Homo sapiens: one gene and its partners. The gene in region 1 interacts genetically with each later gene. Each region holds a gene or a part of one and is shown in the gene's direction. Other genes may lie near its edges.

What was found.
Region 2: changes in RB1 (region 1) and TAF5L together harm fitness more than expected from each alone (negative genetic interaction), as found in Homo sapiens cells (one large-scale study listed by BioGRID).
Region 3: changes in RB1 (region 1) and PPP2R3C together harm fitness more than expected from each alone (negative genetic interaction), as found in Homo sapiens cells (one large-scale study listed by BioGRID).
Region 4: changes in RB1 (region 1) and GAK together harm fitness more than expected from each alone (negative genetic interaction), as found in Homo sapiens cells (one large-scale study listed by BioGRID).
Region 5: changes in RB1 (region 1) and UNC13D together harm fitness more than expected from each alone (negative genetic interaction), as found in Homo sapiens cells (one large-scale study listed by BioGRID).
Region 6: changes in RB1 (region 1) and SKP2 together harm fitness more than expected from each alone (negative genetic interaction), as found in Homo sapiens cells (one study listed by BioGRID).
Region 7: changes in RB1 (region 1) and STAT6 together harm fitness more than expected from each alone (negative genetic interaction), as found in Homo sapiens cells (one large-scale study listed by BioGRID).

Annotation. Positions count from the first base shown.
Region 1 is NC_000013.11:48,376,751-48,380,250, forward strand, and holds part of RB1 (retinoblastoma-associated protein), read left to right. Parts: intron 1-167; coding exon 168-284; intron 285-2,843; coding exon 2,844-2,900; intron 2,901-3,084; exon of another isoform or gene 3,085-3,124; intron 3,125-3,302; coding exon 3,303-3,334; intron 3,335-3,414; coding exon 3,415-3,491; intron 3,492-3,500. UniProt on the Homo sapiens protein: Tumor suppressor that is a key regulator of the G1/S transition of the cell cycle. The hypophosphorylated form binds transcription regulators of the E2F family, preventing transcription of E2F-responsive genes.
Region 2 is NC_000001.11:229,605,623-229,609,122, reverse strand, and holds part of TAF5L (TAF5-like RNA polymerase II p300/CBP-associated factor-associated factor 65 kDa subunit 5L), read left to right. Parts: intron 1-1,287; exon of another isoform or gene 1,288-1,315; coding exon of another isoform or gene 1,316-1,349; intron 1,350-2,246; exon of another isoform or gene 2,247-2,705; intron 2,706-2,929; exon of another isoform or gene 2,930-3,004; intron 3,005-3,500. UniProt on the Homo sapiens protein: Functions as a component of the PCAF complex. The PCAF complex is capable of efficiently acetylating histones in a nucleosomal context. The PCAF complex could be considered as the human version of the yeast SAGA complex.
Region 3 is NC_000014.9:35,084,972-35,087,981, reverse strand, and holds the end of PPP2R3C (serine/threonine-protein phosphatase 2A regulatory subunit B'' subunit gamma), read left to right. Parts: coding exon 1-31; intron 32-2,203; coding exon 2,204-2,392; 3' UTR 2,393-2,510; downstream 2,511-3,010. UniProt on the Homo sapiens protein: May regulate MCM3AP phosphorylation through phosphatase recruitment. May act as a negative regulator of ABCB1 expression and function through the dephosphorylation of ABCB1 by TFPI2/PPP2R3C complex.
Region 4 is NC_000004.12:866,317-869,816, reverse strand, and holds part of GAK (cyclin-G-associated kinase), read left to right. Parts: intron 1-1,131; coding exon 1,132-1,278; intron 1,279-2,384; coding exon 2,385-2,861; intron 2,862-3,282; coding exon 3,283-3,453; intron 3,454-3,500. UniProt on the Homo sapiens protein: Associates with cyclin G and CDK5. Seems to act as an auxilin homolog that is involved in the uncoating of clathrin-coated vesicles by Hsc70 in non-neuronal cells. Expression oscillates slightly during the cell cycle, peaking at G1.
Region 5 is NC_000017.11:75,837,905-75,841,404, reverse strand, and holds part of UNC13D (protein unc-13 homolog D), read left to right. Parts: intron 1-403; coding exon 404-448; intron 449-574; coding exon 575-643; intron 644-828; coding exon 829-898; intron 899-1,075; coding exon 1,076-1,180; intron 1,181-1,294; coding exon 1,295-1,387; intron 1,388-1,462; coding exon 1,463-1,566; intron 1,567-3,500. UniProt on the Homo sapiens protein: Plays a role in cytotoxic granule exocytosis in lymphocytes. Required for both granule maturation and granule docking and priming at the immunologic synapse.
Region 6 is NC_000005.10:36,165,611-36,169,110, forward strand, and holds part of SKP2 (S-phase kinase-associated protein 2), read left to right. Parts: intron 1-908; coding exon 909-1,052; intron 1,053-2,702; coding exon 2,703-2,837; intron 2,838-3,500. UniProt on the Homo sapiens protein: Substrate recognition component of a SCF (SKP1-CUL1-F-box protein) E3 ubiquitin-protein ligase complex which mediates the ubiquitination and subsequent proteasomal degradation of target proteins involved in cell cycle progression, signal transduction and transcription.
Region 7 is NC_000012.12:57,101,363-57,104,862, reverse strand, and holds part of STAT6 (signal transducer and activator of transcription 6), read left to right. Parts: intron 1-49; coding exon 50-137; intron 138-271; exon of another isoform or gene 272-276; coding exon 277-399; exon of another isoform or gene 400-503; coding exon of another isoform or gene 504-536; intron 537-1,941; coding exon 1,942-2,034; intron 2,035-2,366; coding exon 2,367-2,573; intron 2,574-3,500. UniProt on the Homo sapiens protein: Carries out a dual function: signal transduction and activation of transcription. Involved in IL4/interleukin-4- and IL3/interleukin-3-mediated signaling.

The DNA of each region.
Region 1 (3,500 bases):
GAAATGATATTGTCTGCTTATGTTCAGTAGTTGTGGTTACCTAGTTATTATGGAAGTGTTTCCACATTTTTATGAACAATTTAAAAAGTCATATATTATGGAGCAGAAAATATTAATTCTGATTACACAGTATCCTCGACATTGATTTCTGTTTTTACCTCCTAAAGAACTGCACAGTGAATCCAAAAGAAAGTATACTGAAAAGAGTGAAGGATATAGGATACATCTTTAAAGAGAAATTTGCTAAAGCTGTGGGACAGGGTTGTGTCGAAATTGGATCACAGGTAACTTGAATTCATTGTAATTCGTGGTACTATAGAGTAATAATATTAAAAGCAGCATCTTTCCAGTTCGTATAAATACTCTAACAGTATTTGTCTAGTAGTATAAAATACTGTCAGATACTATATCCCTGCTGCCTGTGTATGCTGCTATTTATGGGTAACTTTATGGAAAACTACCTCCCACCCCATTATAAAAACTATGTAATAAAGGAACACATAGCCATTGTAGAAATTTTGGAAAATACAACTAAGAAAAAAATTGAAATCTTTGATATTAAATTTTTGATTTTGCTTTGACTTCTACATGTATGACTGTTCATGTATGCATATCCTAATGTGAATGGGACTATACATGCCATTTGTCAGTGATATTATTGAGTGATATTATTTCAGGAAATCTAAAGCTAATATAATAGGTAAGAGTATGGGCCATGGAGTGACAGCCCTGGGTTTATATTTGGTTCTACCATTGTTGATCTTGGACATGTCATTTAACTTCTCTGAGATTCAGGTTCTATATTTGCTCTGCTTTGTTGTGTGGCATTAATGAGGATAATATACAAAAATATATTGGAAAACTGGAGTCCACTGTACACATTTATTTCAGTGTAGTGAGGTTATATTTTGATGCCATCAGTGTTTTAAACATTGATATTTAATGGTTCTTTTTGATTCTACAGCCATGCACCACTTAACAGGGATATGTTCTGACAAATGCATCATTAGGCAATTTTGTTGTGTGAACCTGGTAGAGTGTGTCTGTACAAACCTAGATGGTATAGCCGATTGTACATCTAAGCTGTATGATATAGCCTATTCATTCCTAGGCTACAGGCCTCTACAGCATGTGTACTGAATACTGTAGGTAATGGTAACATAATGTGTTACCATTTGTGTATCTAAATATATCCAAACATAGAAAAGGTAAAGATATAGTACAAAAGATAAAAAATGGAACATTTGCACAGAGCACTTACTATGAAAGGAGCTTACAGGATTGAAAGTTGCTCTGAATGAGTCAGTGAGTCGAGTGGCAAGTGAATGTGAAGGCCTACAATATTACCTATGACATGACTGTACACTATCGTAGACTTTATAAATACTACACTTAGGCTAAACTAATTTCATAAACATTTTTTCTTTCTTCAGTAGTAAATTAACCATAGCTCACTGTAACTTTTTTACTTTATAAATCTTCAGTTTGTAAGAAACTTTTGACTCTTATAACACTTAGCTTAAAACACAAACACCTTATACAGCTGTACAAAAATATTTTCTTTCTTTATAATCCTTATTCTGTACACTTTTTTCTATTTAAAAATTTTTTCAATTTCATAAAGATTTTTGCCAAAAACAAAGGCAAACACACACATTAGCCTAGGCCTACACAGGATCAGGATTAACAATACCACTGTCTTCTGCCTCCAAATTCTGTCCCAAGTCTTCAGGGACAATAAAATGCATAGAGCTGTCAACTCCTATGATGATGATGCTATCTTCTGGAATATCTCCTGAAGGAGCTGCCTGAGGGTGTTTTACATTTAACTTTTTTTTTTTTTTACAAGTAGAAGGAGGATGCTCTAAACTAATAAAAAGTATAGTATAATAAATACATAAACCAGTAACATGTTCATTATTAAGTATTATGTACTGTACATAATTGTATGTACTATACTTTTATATGACTGGCAGTGCAATAGGTTTATTTACATCAGCATCATCACAAAGATGTGAGTAATGTAATGCATTGCACTACATTACACTAAACAATAGGAATTTTTCAGCTCCATTATAATCTTATGGGACTACTGTTAGATATGCAGTCAGTTATTGACCAAAAACGTTGTTATGCGGTGCATGATTATATATGAGATTTTTGCTCTTAGTTTGGAAGGAAATAATATGGTGTGTGTTTATATTTCTAAAATTTGGTTATTCTTTCAAATAATGGGAACTAGTTATTTGGCTAAAACTTCTTGCTCATAAGGTCAGTTTGATCTGATTTTTGCCTGTGTCAGTTTTACTAAATTTATGGACAAAGACTGTCCTCTTAATCCTGGACAGCTATCTTGAAAATACATGTCCTAGGTCATGAGAAATGTTATATAAGGTACATAAAGTGCTTAAAATAGTACTGGGCACATAACCTATCTTTAGTATGAATGATATAAACTGAAATGGAGTTAAGGAAATCCAGGTACTGGACCTACCCTCTTGTTAATTTACTTGGGAATGTTAATCACCACTTAATACTTAAGTTGTGAGTTTTAGACAAGCTAGCTTTTGTGTTGTCTTGGCGGCCATATTTGTAAGAAGGGTGAGAAGTATGTTTTAAGAAAAGGCTTTTTAAAAAATTTTAGTAATTGTCAGCTGGGTATAGTGGTACATGCCTATAATCCCAGCCTCTTGGGAGGCCAAAGCAGGAGGATCTCTTGAGCCCAGGAGTGTGAAGGCCAGCCTGGGCAAAACAGTGAGACTCCATCTCAAAAAAAAAAAAAATTTCATAATTGTGATTTTCTAAAATAGCAGGCTCTTATTTTTCTTTTTGTTTGTTTGTAGCGATACAAACTTGGAGTTCGCTTGTATTACCGAGTAATGGAATCCATGCTTAAATCAGTAAGTTAAAAACAATATAAAAAAATTTCAGCCGGGCGCGGTGGCTCACGCCTGCAATCCCAGCACTTTGGGAGGCCGAGGTGGGCAGATCAGGAGGTCAAGGCATCAAGATCATCCTGGCCAAAATGGTGAAACCCTGTCTCTACTAAAAGTACAAAAATTAGCTGGGCGTGGTGGTGTAGACCTGTAGTCCCAGCTACTTGGCAGGCTGAGGCAGGAGAATCCCTTGAACCAGGGAGGTGGAGGTTGCAGTGAGCCAAGATTGTGCCATTTCACCCCAGCCTGGCAACAGAGCAAGACACCATCTAAAAAAAAAAAAAAAAAAAAAAAAAATTCAATGCTGACACAAATAAGGTTTCAATTAAACAACTTCTTTTTTTTTTTTTAAATTATCTGTTTCAGGAAGAAGAACGATTATCCATTCAAAATTTTAGGTAAATTTTTTACTTTTAGTAAAAAATTTTTTTCTTTTTATAGAAGTAAGTATTTTATAATCTTTTTTTTTTTCCTTTAGCAAACTTCTGAATGACAACATTTTTCATATGTCTTTATTGGCGTGCGCTCTTGAGGTTGTAATGGCCACATATAGCAGTAAGTTAA
Region 2 (3,500 bases), on another chromosome or scaffold:
AATATATCTTAGGACAATATCTATCCTGGCATGTAGTCAGCACTTAACATAAATACAGGCTGAACGAATGAAGGAGACAGGCTCAAAGAAGCCAGATAATTTGCTTCTTTTTCTTTTTTTTGAGACGGTATTGTTCTGTTGCCCAGGCAGGAGTGCAGTGGCATGATCACGGCTCACTGCAGCCTTGACCTTCTGAGATCAAGTGATCCTCCCATCTCGGCCTCCTGAGTAGCTGGGACCACAAGCATGTGCCACAACACCTGGCTAATTTTTTTAAATTTTTTTGTAGAGACAGGGTCTCACTGTGTTGCCCAGGCTGGTTTCAAACTCCAGGCCTCAAGCAGTCCTCCCATCTTGGCCTCCCAAAGTGCTGAGATTGTAGGCACAAGCCACCACACCCAGCCAAGACATTTGTTTCTAAACCAGCTTCCCCACCACTAGTATGGTGAAAATAAATCTGTCATGGAGAGATTAATATCATATTTTTTTAACTGAGTAAAATAACTTTCTAAAAACTGAGTTAAATTTTTCTGCAAGTTGCTTAAAGCCTCAGAAACCAATGCCAATGATAAAAAATATCTCTAAGTTCTTACCTCTCAATGAAAGAAACCCTTATTATAAATTCGGTTTTTCTTTTTTTATCCTTAGTGGAAATTGATCACTGCACTGAAATATTTAAGATTTATATGATATGCAGAATTAATGGAACTTCCTTTTTTTCAAACATAATAGAGTCATTTTACTAAAGCCTTAATTTTCATGATTTTTCGTTTTTGTAACTATTAAACAGACTATTCTCTACTTATGAATTCTGTCACCCAACAACCATGAAACTGATAAGATAACCCCACTAGAGGGTTTTATTTTGTAACCCTTATTTCCTGTAATATTTTGACCATTTTCTCCAACTGTAGACTATAGTAAATATAGATTCTTTGCTTTAAAATACCATTATGGGGGCCAGGTAAAACTAGGATAATTCTATGCGTGTGTAAGGCCAGGTGTATTATTTTGGTTTATATATTGATTACTGTATACTCGTCGTTTACCATTAAAAATTATTACCACAAGGATTGTTTGGCCAGAACTTTACATTTCAAAAGATTATAGTCTATCAACCATTTCCTTTAAGTTCTTACTTTATTTCTGAACTGAGAAAGTTGTCTGTTATTTTGTCTGTAATTTGATTCTTTAATCCTTTGGTTTAAAGGATCATTATTTTAAAGGGGTTAATATATATTGATCACTTTGGACTGCTGCTCCTGGAATATTTTTCTCTACCCTCAGGTCTCTGAAGAGCAGTTAACCAAATCAAATGAATAGTTATTTCCTGATCACCAAGATAAAGTGTAAGATATACTCATTAATCTATTTTAGAAGCAGTCCTAGCATAAAAACACTATAGGTAAAAGTTTTTACATAAAATTTGAATATCACAGAAGCACTTTCACAGACCAGCATGAGATCAATTGCTGAATCATATAGGAATTGCATTCAGAATGAAAGGAGAAAGTGATTTGGTTGGCGGTAGTCAGAGAAGGCTTTACTGAGCAGGAGGTAGGCTTTAAGTCAGCACTTGAAGGATGGATTGAGTTTCAGTAGACTGGAAGAGGAGGAGGAAGAGGAGTAATTTGGGTAAGAAATAACATGAGCAAAAAGGCAGGCTTGACGACTGTACAGGAACAACTAAGGCTTTGTTGTGAATGGGGGTTTCAGGCTGGAGATCAATGAATATTAGTCTGAAAGCAGTTTGTAAAATTATTTGTAAGAGGAATGGCAGGGAGACTGACTGTGAATTAAAGTGCTTGGCAATCTTGAGAAATGAGGTGAGAAAGGACCAGAATTTGACAGCATTGTGGAACTGGAAGGCAGGAGCTTTATTTCATAGTTAAATTACCAAGGTGGAATCTCCAAGGCTCAGGAGTAAAGGAGGAAGAAGAGGTGACGATGGCTCAGGCTTTAAGACTGGAGTGGAGATGAAGATTTATTGAAAATAAATAAGTCAGAAGGGTTTATGTTTGTTAAATTGTCATGACAGTGGCATCCTACTGCATAGCTTGCAGTGGGAAATTTGAGGCTAGGATTTAGGAGAAAGATAAAGACTTGTAATAAAGAACATGTAGCATCAGCTACATGGAGATGCAAATTAAAGTCTTAAGAAGTGATAAAATCTCAAAGGAAGATACTAGGGAAAGATATAAGAGTATCTATGTCTATATCCACCTGAATGTATTTTTCCTCCACAGGTTGTCTGTAGATGAGAGATTCTGTGAGCTCACCTATTGCCGTAGGTCCTATTCTTCAGGAGGTGTAGTGGGAAGAACACAGCCTTTGGAGTCAAGCAACCTCTGGATTTGAACCAGGGCCAGCTGTGACTCTTAAACATGATCATGGATGCAAAGTACCTGGCTCCTAAGAGGCACACACCCAGTGTTAATTCTTTAAAGTGAAATGAGCATTTGAGGATTGACAGGAGGAAGAGGAACCAAAAAGGGAGTGACGACAGGACCAAGTAGTGTGGGCTTTCAGAATAAAGGACAGAGGAGTGCTAGTCAATAGAGCCAAACCTTGAAGAAAGGTAGAGGAGAATGAGGACCGACAGGATTAGTTTTGTTTAATTTAGTATCCTTTTTACTACTAATTTCCATGAACTCATGAAAAACTCCATTGTTCTCTCATTTACCGCCAGTAGAGTTGGGCACCAGGTAGGCATTCATTACATTTCAGTGGGTAGATAGAAGGAAGAAAAAGTGTACTTTCAGAGGATATGTTTGTTACTTTTGCAGTTAGAAAAAAATATATTTTAAGTGAGTACACTTTCAGTAAAATACAGAGTATGTTAGATTGCAAGGGAATAATTTAAAATGGGAGTTAGAATTCTGAATCTCACCTTCTTCCAAATTGATCAGTTTTTTTGTTTTATACCCAGCATACTGTTCTCTTCAGACAAGAGAGAGCAATTAAGCAATTTTGAACCTATGAGCTGAAGCAACAGTGAATTTCAGTAAGTTTTAAAGTAGTACATCACTATTTCTTGATAGCTAGGTTTTTTTCTAAACTTACTCAATTGAAATGCCTCTCATTTTAGAAAAGGAGCCTGAAATTTTGTTTCTAAGGAATTGAAAACAATCCTTCATCCCAATAAAAAACAAAGGGAAAAGAAAAACCAAAATCTAGTCACAGTTCTCGAAAGAAACAGCCAAGAGCCAACAGGATGGATATGTAGAGGTTTACTTTAAGGAATTGTTCCATGCAATTGTGGAGGCTTGGCACATTCAAAATCAGGGCGGGCCAGCAGGCTGGAGACCCAGGAAAGAGTTAGTGTTGCAGTTCAAATCCAAAGGCTCTCTGCTGGCAGAATTCCTTCTACTAGGGGAAGATAAGTCTTTTTCTATTAAAGCCTAAACTGATTGATTGATTGATTGGATGAGGCCCACACTTTATGGAAGGTAATCTGCTTTACTCAAAGTCTACTGACTTAAATGTGTTAATCTCATCTA
Region 3 (3,010 bases), on another chromosome or scaffold:
ACAAGATCCTGTTTCATTTCAAGATGTCAAGGTTATCTTTTCCTTTAATTTACGTATTACCAGATAATTATGAGATAGTCATTTGTATTACATGAAATTTTATATGAAAGCAACTAATGAAGTACTATTTGAATCAAGTGTTTGCTTTTTGTTCTGAACTGATATTTAAATCATTACGAACTGAGACCACATTTGGACTATTTATGTAGTTTATAATTTTAGTATTGTCATCATTATGTTTTCATTGGAAGCATTCATTCATTTTAATTAAGACAGTCAGGGGGCCGGGCTCAGTGGCTCATGCTTGTAATCCCAGCACGTTGGGAGGCTGAGGCGGGCGGATCATCCGAGGTCAGGAGTTCAAGACCAGCCTGGTCAACATGGTGAAACCCCGTCTCTACTAAAAATACAAAAATTAGCTGGGCATGGTGGCGCATGCATGTAATCCCGGCTACTCGGGAGGCTGAGGCAGGAGAATCGTTGGAGCCCAGGAGGTGGAGGTTGCAGTGAGCTGAGATTGTGCCACTGCACTCCAGCCTGGACAACAAGAGTGAAACTCCATCTCAAAAGAAAAAAAAGAAAATTAAGACAGTCAGTACAGTCTATATCCTACGGCAGTCTGTTCAACTGTAAACTGATTTTTTACCTTGGAAACTGTTTTAGTATGCTACCTCAAACAGCCTGTTCACTTTTAGTAATTTTGCTACAAATTTTATTTTACTACAAATTTTGTAGTTATTTTACTACAAAAAGATTAGAAAACATGTACTAATTCCCTGTAAATATCTGTTGTACACTTCATAATATAGAAGGAGGTCTTCTATATGTTCCAGTAAGTTTTAGCAGAATTTAGCTTCTTTTTGGATGTCTAATGCATATCCAGAGAAAACTCCCCTCTCCCATCCTAACAAAATGTTGACATCAACATTGGAAATGAAGCTTTGTCACTATCTCTGAAACATTTAGATGTTTAATTGAGTTGAACGGTTAGCAAAAAAAAATTAAACCAAACCCTTGTTAGCCGGGTGTGGTGGTACACGGCTGTAATCCCAGCTATTTGGGAGGTCAAGACAGGAGAATGGCTTGAACCTGGGAGGCAAAGTTTGCAGCGAGCCAAGATCGCACTACTGCACTCCAGCCTGGGACAGAGGGACACTCCATCTCACACACACAAAAAAAGAAGGGGCTGGGCACGGTGGCTCACGCCTGTAATCCCAGCACTTTGGGAGGCCAAGGCAGGCGGATCACCTGAGGTCGGGAGTTCAAGACCAGCCTGACCAATATGGAGAAACCCCGTCTCTACTGAAAATACAAAAATTGGCCAGATGTGGTGGCACACGCCTGTAATCCCAGCTACTTGGAAGGCTGAGGCAGGAGAATCGCTTGAACCCAGGAGGCAGAGGTTGCGGTGAGCCGAGATCACACCATTGCACTCCAGCCTGGGCAACAAGGGTGAAACTCTGTCTCAAAAAAAAAAAAAAAAGGCTGGGCGCAGTGGCTCACACCTATAATTCCAGCAATTTGGGAGGCCAAAGCAGGCAGATTACTTAACATCAGGAGTTTGAGACCAGCCTGGCCAATATGGTGAAACCCCCATCTCTACTAAAAATACAAAAATTAGCTGGGTGTGGTGGCGTGCACCTGTAGTCCCACCTACTCGGGAGGCTGAGGCAGAAGAATCGCTTGAACCCAGGAGGCGGAGGTTGCAGTAAGCCAAGATCGCACTACTGCACTCCAGCCTGGATGACAGAGTGAGACTCCATCTCAAAAACAAAACAAAACAACAAAAACAAAAACTACAGACAAAACTTTGTTTCACCAATTAGAAGGCAACAGAAAAATATATAAGAAACTAGTTAACGTGCAGTCCCTGAACACTGCATTAGATAGTTCTGCCACTAATTACCTATGTAGCTAGATTAGGCACTGAGCCTTGGTTTCTTCATCTATAAAACGAAGGATAGCTATCACATAGCTAAGGAGTTATCCAATAAAATTTTGTGGTTGTAGGTAGAGAAAAGGAAACTGCCTGTTAAATGGAAAAGAAAAAAAGTAGAACAAAAAATTAACATAAGCCCAAGTGGCAGCCCTCAATTTTATTCCTCTGTACTTCAGTGGATGCAAACAGCCCTGAATTTTGGATCACTATGTGTGATAGAAATTAAGTGGATCAAATTTCATTGTATTTTTTTTTCTCTTGCAGGATGAAATCTTTGACATGGTAAAACCAAAGGATCCTTTGAAAATCTCTCTTCAGGATTTAATCAACAGTAATCAAGGAGACACAGTAACCACCATTCTAATCGATTTGAATGGCTTCTGGACTTACGAGAACAGAGAGGCTCTTGTTGCAAATGACAGTGAAAACTCTGCAGACCTTGATGATACATGATCTCTGAAAGACTAGACTGTCTTATATTATGAGATACTTGAATGCTGCATGTAAAGCCTTTAAAGCAAAATCCTCAGAAATGGTCTAAATAAAACACTTGATATGCCTAGAGAACACAGCAAATGTTTTGGTTACTGGAATTTTGGTTGCAATAGTTTAGAAGCAATAGGACCAAATATTGCTTGTTAGGAGGTGGGGTAAGTTCTGGTTCCTTTTAGTTCAAAGATGGGAAGTGTGATTTGCTGTAGGTAGATGATGTTCAGTTTAAATCTGTATAATCTTCAGAGATGAAGTTTCCATGGAATATTTCTGACAGTCATTTAGAATGTGAATATTTGACTGACAGTGCATATATATATACACACAACATGTGTGTGTGTGTGTGTCTATATATATAAAATCTCAAAGATGACAAACTTTCCCATTCATGAGTAGAGCCATTTTATTTCTGGGTTAGGATTAGGATTTTTTTTTAGGGGGGGTCAAGTGATTCTCCTGCCTCGGCCTCCTGAGTAGCTGGGATTATAGGCGCCTGCCAACACACCTGGCTAATTTTTGTATTTTAGCAGAGACAGGGTTTCACCATGTTGGCCAGGCTGGTCTCAAACTCCTGACCTC
Region 4 (3,500 bases), on another chromosome or scaffold:
TGTGTGCATTTGTGTGTACCATGCATCTCTGCTGTGTGTGCATTCGTGTGTACTGTGCATCTGTGTGTACTGTGTGCATTCATGTGTACTGTGCATCTGTGTGTGCTGTGTGTGCATTCATGTGTACCCTGCATGTGTGTATGTGCTGTGTGTGCATTCGTGTGTACTGTGCATCTGTGTGTGTGCATTCATGTGTACCCTGCATGTGTGTATGTGCTGTGTGTGCATTCGTGTGTACTGTGCATCTGTGTGTGTGCATTCATGTGTACCCTGCATGTGTGTATGTGCTGTGTGTGCATTCGTGTGTACTGTGCATCTGTGTGTGTGCATTCCTGTGTACCATGCATCTGTGTGTGCTGTGTGTGCATTCCTGTGTACTGTGCATTTGTGCTGTGTGTGCATTCATGTGTACCGTGCATCTGTGTGTGCTTTGCATTCGTGTGTACCCTGCATGTGTGTATGTGCTGTGTGTGCATTCGTGTGTACTGTGCATCTGTGTGCTGTGTGTGCATTCATGTGTACTGTGCATCTGTGTGTGTGCTGTGTGTGCATTCATGTGTACCCTGCATCTGTGTGTGTGCTGTCTGTGCATCCGTGTGTACCATGCATCTGTGTGTGCATTCATGTGTACTGTGCATCTGTGTGTGCTGTGTGTATTCATGTGTACCCTGCATCTATGTGTGTGCTGTCTGTGCATTCGTGTATACTGTGCATCTGTGTGTGCTGTGTGTGCATTCGTGTGTACCCTGCATCTGTGTGTGTGCATTTGTGTGTACTGTGCGCCTGTGTGTGTGCTCTATGCATTCGTGTGTACCGTGCAGCTGTGTGTGTGCATTCATGTGTACCCTGCATATGTGTGGCGTTTGATGCCTCAGTGGTGGGTTCCTTGTGCGTGTTCATGTGTGCGTGTGCTGTGCCCAAGTGTGCACGCATGGCCCAGAGTGGCATCCGAGTGGATAGCAGGAATCTGTTCAGAGAGCCCCTCCCCGTCATGTCATTGGTCTGCTTTACCGATGGCCTGGCCTGCCACGGTGCTGGCGCCCGCCTGGCTGCACTTCCCAGCTCTGGGGTCAGTGTTGCCCCGAGGCTGCTGGCCAGTGCCAGTGCCCTGACGCCCTCCCTCTCCTGCAGGGAAGCCGGAGCTTCCCCGGCAGCCTGGCTCCACGGCTCAGTATGATGCTGGGGCAGGGTCCCCGGAAGCCGAACCCACAGACTCTGACTCACCGCCAAGCAGCAGCGCGGACGCCAGTCGCTTCCTGCACACGCTGGACTGGCAGGGTAGGCAGCGTCCCTGGACCTGGCCACTTGCAGAGGGCAGGCCCCTGGTCTGGAGGTGCCCCTGGGGCAGGGCAAGCGTCTTGGGAGACGGGCCTCCGGCAGAGCTGAGTTGCACCTCAGTGGGGCTGTGCACCCGGCATGTCAGCCTGTTCTTTAATGGCTCACGAGCTAAGAATGATTTCATATCTTTTTAAAGGTGAAAAAAAAAGAACATGCCCACAAAGTCTGAAATAACAACCCTCGCTCTTCATCCCAGTCTGTGGGCCTGGGGAGGCTGGCAGCATGGGCCATGCTGGCGGGGCCCCTGGGTACAGGGGAAGGGCCTGGGCGGAGGGACAGACTGTCACCACCTGGGGATCCCACACCTCTCTTTGCCCACACCCCCAGTGGGCTCCCAGCCCCTCTGAGGCTTTTCAGGAAAACACCTGGGCGCCATCACTGGACCTCACCCCAGACACACCCCAAGGGATGCACCTGCCACTTCCTGTCCCAGCACCCCTGGCCTTCCCATCGGGCTCGTCCCTTCTGCCGCCTGTTCCCAGAGCACCCTTGATTGGTGTTCCTACCCCCTAGTGCTGCCATGTGGCCCCCACTTGACTCAGCCTGAGGCACCGCAGAGGCCCAGGCGGAGAGAGCCACAGGCAGACCCTTGAGGCAGAGGCTGGAGGTGGGTGTGCTGGAGACGCCTCAGGAACAACACCCCACCGCCCGCCCAGAAGCTTCTGCAGCACTCGCCAGGGCCCTGGGCCAAGGAGGCGCTGAGGGGCCGTGCCATGGGGACATTGGTGCTGGCCATGTGGGTTCGCCAAGGCCCTGGGCTGAGGGGACGCGCCGTGGGGACCCTGGTGTTCCTGCAGCACTTGCCAAGGCCCTGGGCCGAGGAGGTGCCGAGGGGCCATGCCATGGGGACCCTGGTGCTGGCCACGTGTGTTCACCAAGGCCCTGGGCCGAGGAGGCCCTGAAGGGACGCGCCGTGGGGACCCTGGTGCTGGCCACGTGTGTTCACCAAGGCCCTGGGCCGAGGAGGCCCTGAAGGGACGCGCCGTGGGGACCCTGGTGCTGGCCGTGTGGTCTCACTAGCCTGTGGTTTTGTTTCCTTTTCGCAGAAGAGAAGGAGGCAGAGACTGGTGCAGAAAATGCCTCTTCCAAGGAGAGCGAGTCTGCCCTGATGGAGGACAGAGACGAGAGTGAGGTGTCAGATGAAGGGGGATCCCCGATCTCCAGCGAGGGCCAGGAACCCAGGGCCGACCCAGAGCCCCCCGGCCTGGCAGCAGGGCTGGTGCAGCAGGACTTGGTTTTTGAGGTGGAGACACCGGCTGTGCTGCCAGAGCCTGTGCCACAGGAAGACGGGGTCGACCTCCTGGGCCTGCACTCCGAGGTGGGCGCAGGGCCAGCTGTACCCCCGCAGGCCTGCAAGGCCCCCTCCAGCAACACCGACCTGCTCAGCTGCCTCCTTGGGCCCCCTGAGGCCGCCTCCCAGGGGCCCCCGGAGGATCTGCTCAGCGAGGACCCGCTGCTCCTGGCAAGCCCGGCCCCTCCCCTGAGCGTGCAGAGCACCCCAAGAGGAGGGCCCCCTGCCGCTGGTACGTGTTTCTGTTCTGAAGGCGAGTGGCTTCACAGTAGATGAGTGATGAGGCTGAGTCATTCTCACTGCATGGGCGTGTTTCGAAGGTGCTTGCAGGAAGGGAACGTGCCCTTCCCCCACCTCCCCCAGGAGCAGCCTCGGGGTCATGTCAGGGTTCTGTGCTGCCCACCTGAGCTCACGGGCCGGGAGCTACTGGCTTCTCCATCTCAGCAGTGTTGCTGTGTCCCTGGGAAAGTCATCCTGAGGCGTGGGGCACGGGGAGCCCCTGGGCTGACTGCCTCAGTGCCCCTGCGAGGGCAGCCGTGGGGTCTGGGCTGCCCAGCTGGAGTGGCCTCTTGGGCAGGCCTGACTCCAGAGCTGGGCTCCTTTGTCTTCAGGCAGCCGGGCTGAGTCCTCCCCATGCCCGCCTGTCCCCACAGCTGACCCCTTTGGCCCGCTTCTGCCGTCTTCAGGCAACAACTCCCAGCCCTGCTCCAATCCTGATCTCTTCGGCGAATTTCTCAATTCGGACTCTGTGACCGTCCCACCATCCTTCCCGTCTGCCCACAGTGCTCCGCCCCCATCCTGCAGCGCCGACTTCCTGCACCTGGGTAAGTGCCTCTCGCCTGGCAGCCAGCTCTCCATGGCCGCCTCCCTC
Region 5 (3,500 bases), on another chromosome or scaffold:
TTGGGAGGCCTAGGCGGGCGGATCACGAGGTCAGAAGCTCAAGACCAGTGTGGCCAACACAGTGAAACCCCGTCTCTACTAAAAATACAAAAATTAGCCAGGTGTGGTGGCGGGCACCTGTAATCCCAGCTACTTGGAAGGCTGAGGCAGGAAAATTGCTTGAACCCAGGAGGCAGAGGTTGCAGTGAGTTAGATCCTGCCACTGCACTCCTCCAGCCTGGGGGACAGAACTAGACTCCATCTCAAAAAAAAAAAAAAAAAAAAAAAAAGGGATGCGGCTGGGAGGAGGGAAGTTTGGCAGGGATAGGCTACAACTCCATGGCTCTGGGCTGTGGTCACTTACTGCTTCGTCTGGGGGCATCCACCCTCCAGGGCCCTCAACCACGCCCTTTTCTCCATACAGGGAGTTTGAGGACATCACCAATGCGAGCTTTCATCTGGACATGTGGTGAGTGACCTGGCCTGCCCCTAGGGATGGGAAGGGAAGGGATCTGGGGTGAGAGAGGCGGAACCTCCTCCTGGAAGAGGTCGTAGGCACTCTCTCTGCTTCCTTCTCAAACCTCTGTCCTGCCAGGGACCTGGACACTGTGGAGTCTGTCCGACAGAAGCTTGGGGAGCTCACGGATCTGCATGGGCTTCGCAGGTTCGTGTTGCAGGGCTCACAGGGAAGGGGTTGGGGCTCCTTTTGCCCTCCATCCCCCAACATGCACACTGGATGCTGGGGTGCAGGCTCCTTTGGGGTCCAGGTGGCTGCGGCCGGGGGTGGATTCCAGCCTAATCCCTTCCGACCCTTGCTGCGTCCCCCTTATGGGACCCTGCCTGACGCAGGATCTTTAAAGAGGCCCGGAAGGACAAAGGCCAGGACGACTTTCTGGGGAACGTGGTTCTGAGGCTGCAGGTGAGGAGGATGAGGAAAGGGGCCCAGGAGCGAGGCAGAGGGAGGGGGTTGGGAGGGGTTCTGGGGAGAGGCTCTGTGTCCTCACAAAGCTGAGCCTGGGGTCCACCTCCTGTCGCCTCCGCTGCCCCGACTCTATGAGGTTCTGACGCTCACGGGCTGGGCATCCCCGCCTGTCAGGACCTGCGCTGCCGAGAGGACCAGTGGTACCCCCTGGAACCCCGCACTGAGACCTACCCAGACCGAGGCCAGTGCCACCTCCAGTTCCAACTCATCCATAAGCGGGTAGGTCGGGTACTGGGCCAGTGGCCATGCCCAGCTCTTGCGGCGGTCTGCTGGGTTGCGGGGCTGGCTGCACCCAGTGTGAGGCCCTGTCTGCTCACAGAGGCCTCATTGCAGAGAGCCACTTCGGCCAGCCGCTCGCAGCCGAGCTACACCGTGCACCTCCACCTCCTGCAGCAGCTTGTGTCCCACGAGGTCACCCAGCACGAGGTATTGCCCTCCTGGGGCTGGGCGCAGCCGGGGCTGCCCTTCAGGTCCTGACACTCCTCCACCTGCTCCCCTCAGGCGGGAAGCACCTCCTGGGACGGGTCGCTGAGTCCCCAGGCTGCCACCGTCCTCTTTCTGCACGCCACACAGAAGGACCTATCCGACTTCCACCAGTCCATGGCGTGAGTACACAGCCCTGGGCAGAACCCCTGAGCCACCAGCCCCCCACGCCCCCTGCCCTCCTCCAAGCCGGTAGCCCAAAGTGTAATTCTCAGCAGAGTTCCCTTTGGCCCAAAATGTGTGTTTTAAGTTTTGAATCAGTTGCCAATTTTAAAAAGTCTAGAGATTCGGCTGATGCGGTGGCTCACTCCTGTAATCCCAGGACTTTGGGAGGCTGAGGCAGGAGGATCACTTGAGCCCAGGATTTCAAGGCTGCAGTGAGCTATGATCACACCAACACTCCTGCCCGGATCACAGAGTGAGACCTCATTTCCAAAAAATATTAGAAAAAGCTATCTGGAGATTTGACATACCATCCAGATCTCCAGCTTCTCATGAAACACAAGTGCTGGAACTGCAGGGTCATCATTTTGCTGCTTTTTTTTTTTTTTTTTGAAACGGAGTTTCACCCTTGTTGCCCAGGCTGGAGTGGAATGGTGCAATCTTGACTCACTGCATGCAACCTCTGCCTTCCAGGTTCAAGTGATTCTCCTGCCTCAGCCTCCCGAGTAGCTGGGATTACAGGCATGCGCCACCACGCCCAGCTAACTTTGTATTTTTAGTAGAGACGGGGTTTCTCCATGTTGGTCAAGCTGGTCTCCAACTCCCGACCTCAGGTGATCTGCCTGCCTTGGCCTCTCAAAGTGCTGAGATTATAGGCATGAGCCACTGCACCGAGCCATTTTGCTGCTTTTTTTTTTTGAGACAGAGTCTTGCTCTTTCGCCCAGGCCGGAGTGCAGTGGCACGATCTTGGCTCACTGCAGGCTCCGCCTCCTGGGTTCACGCCATTCTCCTGCCTCAGCCTCCCGAGTAGCTGGGACTACAGGCGCCAGCCACCGCGCCCGGCTAATTTTTTGTATTTTTAGTAGAGATGGGGTTTCACCGTGTTAGCCAGGATGGTCTCGATCTCCTGACCTCATGATCCGCCCGCCTTGGCCTCCCAAAGTGCTGGGATTATAGGCGCGTGCCACCGCGCCCAGCCTTTGCTGCTTTTTTGAGTGGACAGAGCGGAGCGATGTGTGTGCCTCTGCCCATCATGGCTGCCATTGGGCCCACTTCAGTTGCTTTCGTCTCCTGAGTCCTGGGCATTTGAATTTGGACCCGGTCCCTAACCCCAGCCCCGCTTCCCAATGCCATAGCCTTCAACTCAGCAAAACTACGCGCTGATAAGGACAAATCTATGTTGAGGGCAACTCACGTCAAGTCCTAGGAATGCCGGGGAGGGCACAGGGGGTCACAGCCATTCCAGTGCATGTGAGTAGGGCAGAGATGGGACATAGCCGGCCGGGCACGGTGGCTCGCGCCTGGAATCCCAGCACTTTGGGAGGCCGAGACAGGCAGATCACTTGAAGTCAGGAGTTTGAGACCAGCCTGGCCAACATGGTGAAATCCTGTCTCTACAAAATATAGAAAAATTAGTCAGGTGTGGGGGCGCATGTCTGTAATCCCAGCTACTCGGGAGGGTGAGGCACGAGAATCACTTGAACCCGGGAGGTGGAGGTTGCAGTGACCTGAGATCACACCACTGCACTCCAGCCTGGGCGACACAGCGAGGCTCTGTCTCAAAAAAAAAAAAAAAGAGATGGGACACAGCCAAGTGCTGGCCAGGGGAGGAACAGGAGCAGGATGCCGACTCAGGCCTGGGCTGTGACTTGGAGTCTGAGTGGGAGGCGGAGGGAGCCCAGGGGAGTGCATTTCTGGGCTGGGGTCAGCTTGTGTACTGCTAGGACCTCAGGCAGGTGGGTGATTCGGAGACAAGGGTGGAATGGTGGTGCGGCTGGAGACTGGAGCAGGCACCAGATGGGGAGGGACCTGGTTTGCCTGCAGGGCCCAAGCACAGTAATGCAGGTGGCTGCAGTGTCCAATAGGGACTTCGGCCTGTCCCCAGGCTGCTCC
Region 6 (3,500 bases), on another chromosome or scaffold:
TCTACAGTCCACCTTTTTAATGATAGATTTGTCACACAAATCACACTGACAATTTTTTTATGATGAAGTTATTTCATAACTCTGGCCAGTGGTCCACTTATTTCAAGCACTATTAAAAAAGAAAATTCTAGTACACCTAAGCATTTAAAATGTTCCTTCATGTGCTTATATTTCACATTTTCTTTTTTTAAATTGAATTAAACTATGGATATTAAAACCCTCTTACTGTGCTATTCAGTACGTTTTTAGAACATCCCTTTTGTTTTAGAAACACCATCTATAATCCGTTGTATTTTTCCCTTATTTCACATTAGTTCATACACACACATATGTACACATACATATACACGTGTATGTTTTAAGCTTCAAATATATTATAAGGCACAGCTGAACCATGACTGTTGCTATTGAATATCTATGACAGCCTTATTTCATAATAAAATAATGCTAACTTTCGTTCCTTTAGTAATTTTCCATGTTGCTACAGTAATCATAATTGCTTGACAAAAGTGTCAAATAGATTTAAAACTTCTTAGAGGATCCTATTTGCCTAGTAATATAATAATTAATTGATTTGAGCAATCATTTTTTAAATTTGTCAACTTGAATGCTGGAATATGATTCTCTGGTTCTAGATCACGGCAGTGCTAATGTTCACATTGAACCATCTAAATTGGAAGTATATAGAAAGAGAAAGATGGAAGCTTATCCCTGGTGAAATCAAGAAAAATTCTCTAGTGCCTTAAAAATATCATAGCTAATTGTATAGCCAACTTAAAAACAAAAGTTCTTTTAGAATATGCTTCAAGGAGATTTAGCAGCAGTGTCCTACCTGTTAGTAATGTTGTTGAGGGCTTCCAGCATTTAGTGTGACCGACTGGCCAAATTAAGTATCTCCTCTTTTATAGGTCTGATGAGTCTCTATGGCAGACCTTAGACCTCACAGGTAAAAATCTGCACCCGGATGTGACTGGTCGGTTGCTGTCTCAAGGGGTGATTGCCTTCCGCTGCCCACGATCATTTATGGACCAACCATTGGCTGAACATTTCAGGTAAAGATGAAAAATCCCTGGAAAAGACTATTTCTAAATTTCGAGGTAGAAACAGATCAAAGCTTTTTTTTTTTTTTTCTTTCTTCAGCCTTAAAGCCTATGGTAGGTTATCTGTGCAGTGTGGGATGTTAATTCCATACTTTGCTATGGGGCCTTTGTGCTAAAACCTAGCATAGATTTCAATGACACTGTTCCCATTTCACTCAAGTTTACTGTTAGTCTCTTCCCAGGGTGAAAGAGGCACATTTGTCTTCTCAAGTCCTCAGCTGATAGGGGGACTGTGAGTCCCACAAGGCAGGCACAAGTAAAGCACTCACTGGCAGATGCAAGGGTGCCCAGTTACTTCCCCAATGCCCATTTCTGATAAATAAAAAAAAGTGAGGAGTCTTTTCATGTTTGTAGCTTGGGGTTTATGATTTTTGTCTTGGAGAAATTTGGAACCTGAAAAAAATGCCCTCTTTTTGTTTGTTTTGTAGAATATTTTGAAAAAGAATTTTCTGTTCTGATAATTTTGCAATACTGAGGTTACTGCTATCACATAGTAGAATAACTAGGTACTGAACAGAAAAACAAGCTGAAGACAACAAAGCTAAAGATAAAACATGTCTCCTGACTCCAGTACTTTTTCCCTTCTTTCCGTAGTCAGGACCGCCTCTCCCACTGCTTTTTATCCTGTTCCTCCTGTGGCTGTTCCTTCTCAGTCTCCTTCACATATGTGATTTCCTCTGTTCACTCCAGGGTCGGTTCCTGGCTGCCACCTTTTTCAAATCCAAATGCTGTCCCTGGACAAGCTGTGTCCTCTACACCCACATTTATGCCCAGGACTCTCAGTTCCTCATCTATAGCTTGGCCCTCCCTTTCAAATTCCCAAATTTCTAATTACCTAAAAACGTCTGTACCTGAATTTCTTACAAGGACTTCAATATTAGCATAACTCAAATTTGGCCTCCCTTTTTTTTTATTGTTTTTGTTTTTTGAGACGGAGTCTTGCTGTGTCACCCAGGCTGGAGTGCAGTGGCGTGATCTCGGCTCATTGCAACCTCTGCCTGCCAGGTTCAAGCAATTCTGCCTCAGCCTCTCGAGCACCTGGGGACTACAGGTGTGCGCCACCACGCCCAACTAATTTTTTGTATTTTTAGTAGAGACTGGGTTTCACCATGCTGGCCAGGCTGGTCTTGATATCCTGACATCGTGATCCACTGGACTCAGCCTTTCAAAGTGTTGTGATTACAGGCGTGAGCCACTGCGCCCAGCCTGGTCTCCCTTTAAAACTTTCTCTTCCGCTACCTTCCCTGTTCTATTGCTGCTCACCCACTCACCCCTGCCAGAAACCAGGAGCCGTTATGGTCTTAATCTCCTTGTCACCCACATCCAGCTCATTGTTGTGATGCCCACTCGTTATTTTCTAAGTGGGACTATATTGGCAGCAACATCTGTACTTGGCAAAAATCCTCTTGCATTTTAAAATGAATGAAGATGGGAATACACTAGTAGCAATATGTTTTATGACCCTATAGTTAATGCTTGAAGTATGTATTTAGAGTCTTGTTTGTGATTGGCTGCTCATTTGGGGAGAAGAGGGGTCTGGTTTGAAATTGGATGTACCCGTGAGAGCCACCTATGGAGCTCCTTTTTTCTCTCCGTGTTTAGCCCTTTTCGTGTACAGCACATGGACCTATCGAACTCAGTTATAGAAGTGTCCACCCTCCACGGCATACTGTCTCAGTGTTCCAAGTTGCAGAATCTAAGCCTGGAAGGCCTGCGGCTTTCGGATCCCATTGTCAAGTGAGTGGCAGGCAGAGTGTCACAAAGGCAGTTGATTTTATGTGTATGAATTTTTTTCCCTGTATATAACTGGGGTGCCCTTCTAGCCATATCCAGGTGGATACAGAAAATATCTAGTGCAGTGCTCTAGCTTCTGCAAAACTTTTCAGGACTCATTGAAGCAACAAAAGCTTGAATGCTAACTATATGCCAGGCCCTGTGCTAGGTTCTAGAGATACAAGTACAAGGATGAACAATGCATGTGTATTATTTGGGAAGAAAATGAATGCTCTAAAACTTTTCCCACCTTGTTAGTGAATGCTGGTTAAGCTATAGTTTACCTTCTTGCAAGAGGAAACATTGAGCAAGACATGTCTATTTTCTCTTGCAAGAAGGTAAACTATTTATGAGCAAGACAGATAATTACCATGCAGTGTGTTTATTAAATGTTTCAGTGAATATGTGGCAACACACGAGGAGCCGCCTTGTTAGAGGAAGTGACTCTTGAGTATTGAAGATATCTAGGTAGGAGATCTCTAGGTAATAAGACAAAGCAACCAGTCTAGGTAAAACTTCCTGTGTGGTTCTAAACTCTTACGTAGTTGGAAGTTGCTGGAGCACAGGACTAAGGGAGGAGAGTGACAAGGTGAGGAGAGTCAGGGACCAGATTGTAATGGGCCCCTA
Region 7 (3,500 bases), on another chromosome or scaffold:
CCTGACGACAGTGAGATGAGCTCGTTCACACTCTGACCTCCCCTGGCAGAGAAAGCACTGGAGAAATCATCAACAACACTGTGCCCTTGGAGAACAGCATTCCTGGGAACTGCTGCTCTGCCCTGTTCAAGAACCTGGTGAGGGGCTTTGGGGTGCAGTGAGGGGGGCACCACTAGGAGACTGTGGGACTCTCCTTGGAGAGGATGTCAGGAAGCCCAGGAGGAGCGGTCTCTGTCCTCATGACCTCGCCCTTGCTCTCCCTCACCCCACCCACAGCTTCTCAAGAAGATCAAGCGGTGTGAGCGGAAGGGCACTGAGTCTGTCACAGAGGAGAAGTGCGCTGTGCTCTTCTCTGCCAGCTTCACACTTGGCCCCGGCAAACTCCCCATCCAGCTCCAGGTGAACCGTGGCCCAGCCCTGCCCCAATCTGGGACCCCGAGTCCTCCTCCAATGCCACACACAAGGGCCCTGGACCCTCACCTCTTGTGACTGCCCCATACCCCATGTGTCTGGGATTCATGCACACTGGGGCCCGGGTGAGTGGGGGTGAGCAAGAGCATGGAGTGCACAGGGCAGGGAATGGTAGTGGATAGCAGCAAACACTTCGGAAGCACTTCCTATAGACCAGGGCACTCTATTAAATGATACATACGCACATGCGTGCCAGCACACACACGTCTGGTTTTCACAATAACATTATGAGGTAGGCAGTATTATCAGCCTCATTTTATAGATAAGGACATTGAGACAGAGAGTTTAAGTAGTTTGTCCCAGTCACACAGCTAAGTGTTGGAGCTGGTATTTGAAACCTGGAGGTCTGGTTCCATAGCGATGACTAATAACCACTTCTCTACGGTGAGGCCCTGATTGAGCTTCAGAACGCATTTAATAACATGGCATGAGCTTTTTGATTATGATGTGTGAGTCCAATAACTTCTCTGAGTGCTCAGAGCCAGTCCCCTGAGGAAACTTCTTGCTTCACTAAGAAACCCCTGTCCGGCTGGGCATGGTGGCTCAAGCCTGTAATCCCAGCACTTTGGGAGGCCGAGGTGGGTAGATCACAAGGTCAGGAGTTCAAGACCAGCCTGGCCAATATGGTGAAACCCCGTCTCCACTAAAAATACAAAAATTAGCTGGGCGTGGTGGTGCAGGCCTGTAGTCCCAGCTGCTCGGGAGGCTAAGCAGGAGAATCGCTTGAACCCAGGAGGCGGAGGTTGCAGTGAGCCAAGATTGCGCCACTGCCCTTCAGCCTGGGCGACAGAGCAAGACTATGTCTCAAAAACAAAACAAAACAACTCAGCACTTTGGGAGGCCAAGGTAGGAGGATCGCTTGAGCCTGCAAGTTTAAGACCAGCCTGGGCTACATAGGGAGATCCAATCTCTACAAAAAATAAAAAATTGGCCGGGCATGGTGGCTCACGCCTGTAATCCCAGCACTTTGGGAGGCCAAGGCGGGCGGATCATGAGGTCAGGAAATCGAGACCATCCTGGCTAACACGGTGAAACCTCGTATCTACTAAAAATACAAAAAATTAGCCAGGCATGGTGGCGGGCGCCTGAGTCCCAGCTACTCGGGAGGCTGAAGCAGGAGAATGGCGTGAACCTGGGAGGGAGAGCTTGCAGTGAGCCAAGATCGCGCCACTGCACTCCAGCCTGAGTGACAGAGCGAGACTCTGTCTCAAAAATAAATAAATAAATAATTAGCTGGATTAGGTGGTACATTTCTGTAGTTCCAGCTATTCAGGAGGCTGAGGTGGAAGGATCACTTGAGCCCTGAAGGCTGAGGCTGCAGTGAGCTGAGATTGCACTACTGCACTCCAGCCTGGGCAACAGAGTGAGATACTATCTAAAAAAAAAAAAAAAAAAAAAAAAAAAAAAAAAAAAAAAAAAAAAAAAAGGAAAGAAAGAAAGAAAAGAAACCCCTGTCCTCACCCTCTTCAGGCCCTGTCTCTGCCCCTGGTGGTCATCGTCCATGGCAACCAAGACAACAATGCCAAAGCCACTATCCTGTGGGACAATGCCTTCTCTGAGATGGTGAGGAAAGTCCTGGAGTTGGAGGGAACAGGGGCAGGGTGGGTTCTAACATGGGCAGTGGTGCAGGCCTGCTGATGGGGTGGTGGGCATGTTTAAATGGGTGTGACCTTAACACTTTCTCATGGGCCTGCTTTCGTGCTTCTGACCTCTTTTCACCCCAGTCTTAACAACTATCAGGCCACAGCACTGTAACCTAGAAAAAACAGCATGTTTGTGAGCGATATCAGGGGCTGTGGAGGGGTAGGCCACAGGCAGGTGGGAGGGATGAAGGCCGGCCCGAGGAATAACAAGACGGTAGCCTGCAGTGCTCTCTTCTTCCCCCTTCTCCCCAGGACCGCGTGCCCTTTGTGGTGGCTGAGCGGGTGCCCTGGGAGAAGATGTGTGAAACTCTGAACCTGAAGTTCATGGCTGAGGTGGGGACCAACCGGGGGCTGCTCCCAGAGCACTTCCTCTTCCTGGCCCAGAAGATCTTCAATGACAACAGCCTCAGTATGGAGGCCTTCCAGCACCGTTCTGTGTCCTGGTCGCAGTTCAACAAGGTCATTCTCCTGCCCTTTGGACCTCCCACCCCCAAGCTCTTCATCCCTGGGGCACTCAGGGCCTGCTCAGCCTCCATGCAGGGACCTTCCACTGGATTCTCCACAGTGCCCCCTCAGGTCCTTTAGGAAGGCCTGTCATGGACCAGGGAGGAAAAACCCCAGGCCTGGGGGTTGGCTCTGGAGATGCGTTCTCTGACATCCCTGAGGTTTTGGTCTGGGGGCCATCTGTCCTTCCTCTTTACCAGTGACTTGCATGACTCACCCAGGTTGTGTGTAAACAGAGCTCTGATTCAAAGTGACTTTGACCTGTTGGAAAAATAGTTCCTGGCCGGGCACAGCGGCTCATGCCTGTAATCCCAGTCTTTGACATGCCGGGGTGGGTGGATCACCTGAGGTCAGGAGTTTGAGACCAGCCTGGCCAACATGGTGAAACTCCATCTCTACTAAAAATACAAAAATTAGCCAGTTGCGGTGGCACATGCCTGTAATCCCAGCTACATGGGAGGCTGACGCAGGAGAATTGCTTGAACCCAGGAGGTGGAGGTTGCAGTGAGCTGAGATCATACCACTGCACTCAAGCCTGGGTGACAGAGCAAGACTCTGTCTCAAAAAAAAAAAAAAAAAAAGGCCAGGCATGGTGGTTCATGCCTGTAATCCCAGCACTTTGGGAGGCCGAGACGGATAGATCACCTGAGGTCAGGAGTTCGAGACCAGCCTGGCCAACATGGCAAAACCCCGTCTCTACTAAAAACAAAAAAATAGCCAGGAGTGGTCGTTTGCGTCTGTAATCCCAGCTACTCGGCTGAGGCAGGAGGTGAACCCAGGAGGTAGAGGCTGCAGGGAAGATGAAACCATTGCACTCCAGCCTGGGCAAGACTCTGTATCAAAAAAAAAAAAAAAAAAGGCTAGGTGTGGTGGCTCACACCT